2 linked regions of the Homo sapiens genome follow. The protein of the gene in region 2 purifies or fractionates together with the protein of the main gene of each other region. This does not show direct contact. Each region holds a gene or a part of one and is shown on either strand. Other genes may lie near its edges.

The links. The genes of interacting proteins can lie anywhere in the genome.
Region 1: the proteins of CSTPP1 (region 2) and ALCAM purify together in Homo sapiens (co-immunoprecipitation; one large-scale study listed by IntAct). This does not show direct contact.

Annotation. Positions count from the first base shown.
Region 1 is NC_000003.12:105,572,909-105,575,154, reverse strand, and holds part of ALCAM (CD166 antigen isoform 1 precursor), read right to left. Parts: intron 679-2,246; 3' UTR 1-678. UniProt on the Homo sapiens protein: Cell adhesion molecule that mediates both heterotypic cell-cell contacts via its interaction with CD6, as well as homotypic cell-cell contacts. Promotes T-cell activation and proliferation via its interactions with CD6.
Region 2 is NC_000011.10:46,980,362-46,986,145, reverse strand, and holds part of CSTPP1 (centriolar satellite-associated tubulin polyglutamylase complex regulator 1), read right to left. Parts: intron 1-5,784. UniProt on the Homo sapiens protein: Regulator of the tubulin polyglutamylase complex (TPGC) that controls cytoskeletal organization, nuclear shape, and cilium disassembly by balancing microtubule and actin assembly.

The sequences.
Region 1 (2,246 bases), on a different chromosome or scaffold from region 2:
CAGAATAGGTAAAATTGTCAGTTTGGGAGTACCATTATGTATGTGTGTCTATATGCATCTGTGATTTATTTCTGAGAGTTCGCTGGTGGCATATCAAAGAGTCGGCTCCTATGGTGTCTATCAGTCTGACTCTCGGCCTCCCCTCCCTTGTGATAAAAATCACAGTTTTTAATTAGGGCAATATGAGTGTCCCCAATCTTCACAAGCTGCCACCTTTGGGTTTTAGGTGCTTATGAGAAAGTTTGGGGCATTGCTGATAGCAATCAGAATCAGAAATGTACCTGCTCAGATTATCCATATAAACAATTGAAATAAAAACATTACATTATACATCAGATTAACAGCAACTCCCAGAACAAAGCTTACAGTGTATAAAAATAGCTACGTAAAAAATTTACATAAAAGGCAAACCAAAAAGAAATCCTCAGTGCAGACATTTACGGAAAAAAAATTGAACCAAACACAACATATGACCTATTATCATGGCTGCCAAAACTTGTTCTTATTGTTTGTAATTAAATTTCATTTGTTTTACTTGAGATAATTCTCTGAAAACCTGTGACAGCTTGGTAGAATGAACTGCTTAATACTTGAACCATGAATTGCTGTCAATGTCTTTGTTTATGTCTTAAATACAATCCACGTTCATGCTTCAATTGGTCTATATGATTTTTATCTCTGAAATGAAAAAAAAATAATTTAGATAAGCTTCCAAAGCAATAATTTTTTAACATCAACAGATACTTTGTACTAAAAGTAATTTAGTAAATTACTTTACAGGAGGGCCTTTTATAAAACTCCATTGTCCCCAAGCCCATCTATAATCTCAGGCATTGCTTCATCCATTCTACAAATAGTTTTTGGAATTATTCAGAGTTTTCTTTTTTTGTAAAATTAATACTAATATTACAAGTTTTTTTTCAAGAAAATATTTCATTGCATTTCTCTTTAGGTTAAAAGTACACTCATTTCTTCAAATCACACTATTTCGTGGGATTTGTCTTCAAGTACAGTTTTTCATTGAGAAGTTATACGATTTTGAAGAAAACAGTAGTTAAAATCTATGTTTACAAAGGACTGGGGAAAAGAACCCTAGAGAAGTGGAAAAAACAAACAAAAAAAGTCATGTGGGAATGCTGCATACTTGACCTCCAATGAAAGGTGAGATAGAGAAGCAATCCAGTTCTGATTCCTTTCACCCCATCAGTTTAAAATCCTGGCTTTCAGATTTTAAAAACCAAGTCTTGTTTCAATTATTCTATTGTTCTCCCCTGTGTGCATCCTTTTAAATTCAGTATTTTCTCACGCTCCATCCTTACTATGGGATTAACTTGGATGACCCACTCAAATTGTGACTTGTGGTTTATTTATAATGAACCCGAGGTTTACTGTGGCGGTTGGGGCTTGTCATATCATATCGGTAAGCTATAGTAACAGTTATTCTAAAGGACACATTAATAGTCCAAATGGCTCTTCTATTTGCTTGGTTTAAGGGAACACAAATAAAAAGAAAAACCTCAAATTGCAGGTGGCAATGCCATGGAAACATACCTCTTTTGAGATTGTCTTAAAAATCACACACAGCTATTTTATATGTTAAATATAACAGTCATATGCCTCTACATATGTGCATATAGATACATGGATACATATATACACATACACATACATATACTACCTATAAAAGCATATGCGTATATGTATACACACGTGCACAAGTTTGTTATGCTTTTCATTAAAATGATTTGGGATATTGGCTGTATAAATACACTCACGCTTTTATTAAATATCTAGATTAAAGTTTTTTATTTTTTTATTTTTATATTTTGAGACAGAATCTCATTCTGTCACCCAGATTGGAGTGCAGTGGCACCATCTTGGCTCACTGCAACCCCCACCTCTTGGGTTCAAGTGATTCCCCTGCCTCAGCCACTGGAGTAGCTGGGATTATCGGTGCTTGCCACCAGGACTGGCTAATTTTTGTATTTTTAGTAGAGACGCAGGGTTTCACCACATTGGCCAGGCTGGTCTGGAGCTTCTAGTCTCCAGTGATCCACCCGCCTCAGCCTCCCAAAGTGCTGGGATTACAGGCGTGAGCCATTGCCTATACCTGGCCTAAAATTTTCATATTTTAAAATTATTTTCATAATCATTTATTTAAAACAAATCTAAGGTATTAGAATCTGTTCTTACTGAACCCAAACACCAATTCAAAAAATAAAGCTTCTTTGCACTTAAAGTTTTTG
Region 2 (5,784 bases):
CAAGTGTGAAAAGCAATATAATTTAACTATGTTTCTCAAAATATGGTCAATCAATTTCTTGATCTGAATCCCCTGGGATGCCGTTTAAAACGCAGATTTATAGTCTGGCACTGTCCCAGATTTAGTGACCTTACATTTTTTACTACAGCCCAGTAATTTTTAACAAGTACTCCTGATGCTTCTTATGTACTCTTAAGTTTAAGAATCACTGGTTAAGAACCTGGGCTTTGGATTACAGAGAGTTGAGAGCTCCATTCTCAGCTCTGCCACTTCCTAGTTATGTGACCATAAACAAATTATTCTTCAAGCCTATTCTTCATGGTAAAATGGGGATAATAATGGTACTTACATTATAGGGTTATGAGAAATAAATAAGATAATACAGGTAAAACACCACTATGTGTTTGGTACATAGTACGTGATTGATAACATGTTTCCTTAAAAGCCTGTCTCAAAGCATTATTGGGAGTTTACTCAGTAAACAACATAGGCCAGAACTTCTTAGATGTCAGGTACTCAAATACTTCTTCCCTTTCTCTGAATTTTATCCTTAGGTATGACAGAGGTTTCCTGACAAACTTTACATAGAAGCTTCCAATTCAGTGTCCACATTTACCATAAAAAATTCAGAAAAATACTTTCATCTGGAGCAGTGAGAACAAAAAACCCCAAAGTGATGAATATCCTTCCAAAAAGCAATTCTATGAAGTTGCTGCCAAAGTAGACATTTACTTCTTTCACAGTTTCATTCCTCAGGAAAATATGATGGAATTACCTAAAATTTATAAATATTGGTATTTCAAAAAACTATTTCTGAAGTCCTGGTAGTCTAGTGAAGCTCATAAAACAAGTAAGTTTACCTGCCAACCTGAGCCCAAAAGTCTTCATTTGACCATAATGATCGCGGTGACCTAAGGTTTCACCACGTTCCCAGCAGCCTAAAGTCCAGATGGATGACCTGTTTACATTCTGTGACTCATTCTATCTAAATGAGTGCTTCCCAAAACTAACAACTATAAACCACTGCAAACCCTGACTGCCCACCCCCAACCCCACCCAAAAAGAGGTGAAAACAAAATCAGTGCCTCAACTCAACAGTTCATCCAACTAGAAAACTGTTTCTTTAAGAAACGGCCAAAACTAAGAGTGAAGCTGTGAGATAATACCTGCCAATTTCTGGTATTGTTTTCAAAATATAATAATTATAATTAGGTGTATATTAAATTGGGAGGGAAAATGGCCAGGGAAACATTAAAATCAGCTGCATTTTCACCTCTGTGTTCTCCTTCCTTTCTTCTATCGGTTTATCCTGATCTTATAAAAAGAGTCCTTCCTTAGGCTATATGGCCTTTTATGACTTAGCTCTACCTAAGGCTAGCACAGGATTTTTTTTTTTTTTCTTTTTGATGGTAGAAATGAAAGAGCTCTACTTAGTAGCAAATCCTGCTGCTTCTCCTCCCTAGCTCCAGGGACTCAAAGTTAATGTGAAAGCTTTTTACGGGATAAATATTTTCAGAGCAGTAAAAATCAAAGTACTTTTGTCCTTCTAGAAAAAAAAAGCAGGAATTTTCAAGAAAATAGACTTTATACCAAAAATATAAAAAAGGAAAGAAAGAAATATATTGGACCATGCATGTTTAACATTAATCTACCAATCAGATATTTAGTTTCATATTACAAATAATAACAGCTACCATTTTTGAGTACTTGCACAATTTATTAAACAACAATGTGACAGATATAGTACTGTACTAATTGTTTCACATGCTTTATTCTATTTCTTCCAAATACAATCCTATAATAGTTATTCTTAGACTTCTATTTTTACAAGTGGGAGAACTGAGACTTACAAAATTAATTTACACAGCTAGTGGGAAGAGAAGCCAAGATTTGAACCAAGGTTTACCTGATACAAGAACCCATTCTCTTAACACGTTGCCTCACCATTAACACTTTATAATCAGTTATGGAAGTAAAAATTATCTTTATTTTACACAGTGCACAAAGGCAGGAATGTATGTTGATAGTAAAATCACCTGAGAGATATGGTCCATTTGGGTCCACGTGAATTTATGTGTGTGTATGTCTGTCTGTCCTGTCCCCCCACCTTCATACCAATCAGCATTTGTGTGAAGTTAGAACTTGTCCCTAAATTTGAAAGTTTCTTGAAAAGAACCATCCCATCCATTCCTAGTTCGCAAAGTAGAAATAGAAAGCCCTGGTGTTCTTTTTACGTGTGGGTGAAGGGAAGAAGCTAAGAAGAAAAGTTCCTCCCTGCAGAGAGTTTTACACCAGCCAACAGCCAAGTGCGAAGCTCTCCCTAATTGCCGTGCCCTGGTGGTTTCCTTCACCTGCAGCTCTTATCAGTCTAATGCTCCCTCTGTGGTTAAGGGTACCACCCAACACGGGAAAATCCTTAGTTTATCAAACTTCAATGAGACAGAAGTTCAAAGCTCTTGCCTGGCAATAAAACACGGAGAGTGTCATTTTACATTTTTTTTAATGCAAAGGAATAGGCTTTAATTTATGTGAATGATTAAAGAATAAAAAACAGCACACCTGCATCCCTGGAGGGCAAAGATATCTGGGCACCTTAGCTGCCCCTTGGAAAAGGAAAAGCATTTAAGACAGGCTTTTCCTCTTTGGCTTTGCCATGACTTCCACAAGATGAGGATTAAGTTTTCTAACCTGTACCTACGCTCTAGTGTCCTAAAATTCACACTAATGCCCAATTGTCCATGTCTTGCTCAGATAGCATCACTGTCTGAGATAAGCATTTAGAATTTCATCATGCTATACTGAAAAATCTAAGGCAAATGTAAGTAAACACTATATGATCCTTACTTGAACCTAGCAAGTGAAGGCAATTGTGGATCAGAAACTTCTTGGTTCTGTTGACTCACCCCATGTTGATCACGTAATCTCTTTATAACACTGTCAATCCTGCTATAAAATGGGTATGATTCTAAGAATATGTCTGATAATAAACTACTTCTTTAGAAAGCATTCAATATATGCAAAATGTAACATGTTAATGATTATATTATTATTGCTACATGCTGACTCTACAGATTAAAACAGCATAACAATTTTTACTGCAATGGTTAAGAATATGGGTTCTTGAGCCAACTGAACCTGGATATGATTTCTAGCTCTGTCATTTACTGACTGTGTAACTTCATATAAGTTACCTTATCTCTCTGCCCTTTTCTATAAAATTGGGCAATACTAGTACCTACCACAGAAGACTGTGGTGAAGATTAAATAAAATAATCTATGTAATCATCTTAGAATAGTGCTTGGCACATAGTAAGTGCTCAAACAATATTAGCCCCTTACCCCCTTATTGAAAGTTCTGCTCATCAAACCAAGATGTTTAGACTATCTTCAAGGATTCTTGGGCTATATAAAATCTATAACTATAAAAATATACATCATCATATACCCATTTCAGGTATGACCTTTAAACTTGTAGGAAGCATTCACTTATTAACTGCTAATTACTCAGCAGGCCCTAATTTATATGGGGAAAATCCAAAACTATTTATTTTATTCTCTTCCCAAGCATAAATACCATAAAAGCATTAGTTGTTTATTTCACAATTAAATGATAAGGGGTCCTATTTGGAAATTTTTGTTTGAGGGGTCTAGAATTTCCACCTTAACATTAGTTAGAGCACTCTTTTTTAAAAATTATTATTTAATACAGAGTCCCAATAATAGAATAACTAAGTCTCACTGGAAAAAATCTTCATATGAATTGCTATATATGATATTAACAGATGCACACATAGGCAATAGCAGTACAAGTGAAAAGCAGAGTATATACATATACTCAACTTTAAACCTGACTTTTTCCCCCCTTGCCAGAGTTTGATAAATAAATTGATAAATACATAGAGTTTTCCTTTCTTCCTTTTGAGACATATTTTGGTCTATGAGGCCTCTTGAGATTGAGATGCTGGATGGCACAAATAAATGTTTGCTGAACTAAATTAAAATGTTCTCTGAGATTTAAAAAAAAAAGTAAACCTGTTAATCAACAACCTGTCATGTAAACTGCTTAGAAGTTTCAAGTTCAATATCATTTATAAATCACTAACATAATCTAGTATTTGATCTTGTGAGGTACAAATAGATAGCTTAATGGTTTAAACAGTTAATAGACCTCTAAAATTTATTATTTACATCCTCCATCTTTACTGGTATATCCTGGTCCAAGGATATAGTGTGTTCTTGTGAAACATTTTGTCATCCATACGAGACCATCTTTGATCTTAGACCACACTAGACCAATTTCCCTTAACCAAAGGGAATGGGGAAATGAGGAAATCTAGCACATGTAATTCTTATACAACCCAACGAAGTAGGTAATAGCAATTTTTTTAAAAACTAGAGAGGTTAAGAAACCTGCCCAAAGTCTAAATAAATGGCAGAGCTTGGATTCAAACTTAGATTTGACTCCAAAGCCCGTATTCTTCCATTCACCCCACTACCTCTCAAAACCAAAAATGAAAGCAAAACAAGAAAAATCCAAAAACCTACAAAGTGCCCCATCTTACGTTGTATTATCTAGAAATTGCTGGCTCTTCCCTGTTAATACTTTATAGTATTAAGAAGCTTAAATTGGTAAATCAAAGTACTGGTATGATCTTTAAATTTTTAAAAATGTTTATTTCTAGTTAAACACACAATAATTTTTAAAGGTTCAAACAATACAGATAAAGCTAAAGACTAATTCCAGTTCCCATAGATAACAACTATTATCAGTTTGGGGTACATATTTTCAAAAATACAGAAATATAGTTTGTGAGCTTGTTCTGTTTTCATGTTTTAAGTTGTTTTTAAGTGTCTGATATATCCTTTCTGCATCTTTTTTTTTTTTAATCAACAATGTCTGGAGATCTTTTATAAAACAATATGGAACCTACTTACCTTTTTGATAGTTCCCAATGGTAAATATTTCCCTACTGATAAACATTTAGGTTGTTTCCATGTTTTCACTATAATAAACTGGGCTGTGTTGAACATTCTTGTACGTGTTTCCTTGTATATATGTGCAAGAGTTTTTCTAAGGTAGATTCCTCAAGATGGAATTGGCATTTCATAGGATGCACAGGATATCTTCATGTTTACCAGAGATAGACAATTGCTTTTACAAATTAGTTATTCCAATTTACACACCACCAGCTGTATGAGTATCTATTTTCACTATCCTTGGCCTAATGCTTTTTAATTTTGCCGATTTAATAGTTAGAAAATAGCTTTTCTCTGTTGTTTTAATTTTACTTTTCTTGATTACAAATAAAGTTAAGCACATTTTCATGTTTATTTGTATTTCTTATCCTTTGCCAATTTTCTTCTCTGGTTGTCTTTTTTTCTTCTTCTTGACTTGTAGATAATTCTATACATGTCACAAATACATACATCTACTTCATGGTCTTCTTTTAACTTGTCTGTGGTATCTTTCATTTTACAGAAGTTTTAAGTGTTGATACAGTCAAAATAATGTATCTGTGGCTTTTTTTTGGTGTGCTTTGTGTCCTATTCAAAAAGGCCTTCTCTACTCCAAGTGTATAAGCCTATTATCCTATATTCCAGTCTGTACTGCATGATACTGCCACCTTTAAAGAGCCATGCAGTATGACATGTATCAAACAGAACTTTCTGAGAACAAATTTGCAAATTAAGGAATGACCTTTTATTTTATAATTGTTAATTATAAAACAGACAAAAGCAATACATTGCATCTATGCATCCAAACCACTAAAGTCCTGCTATACG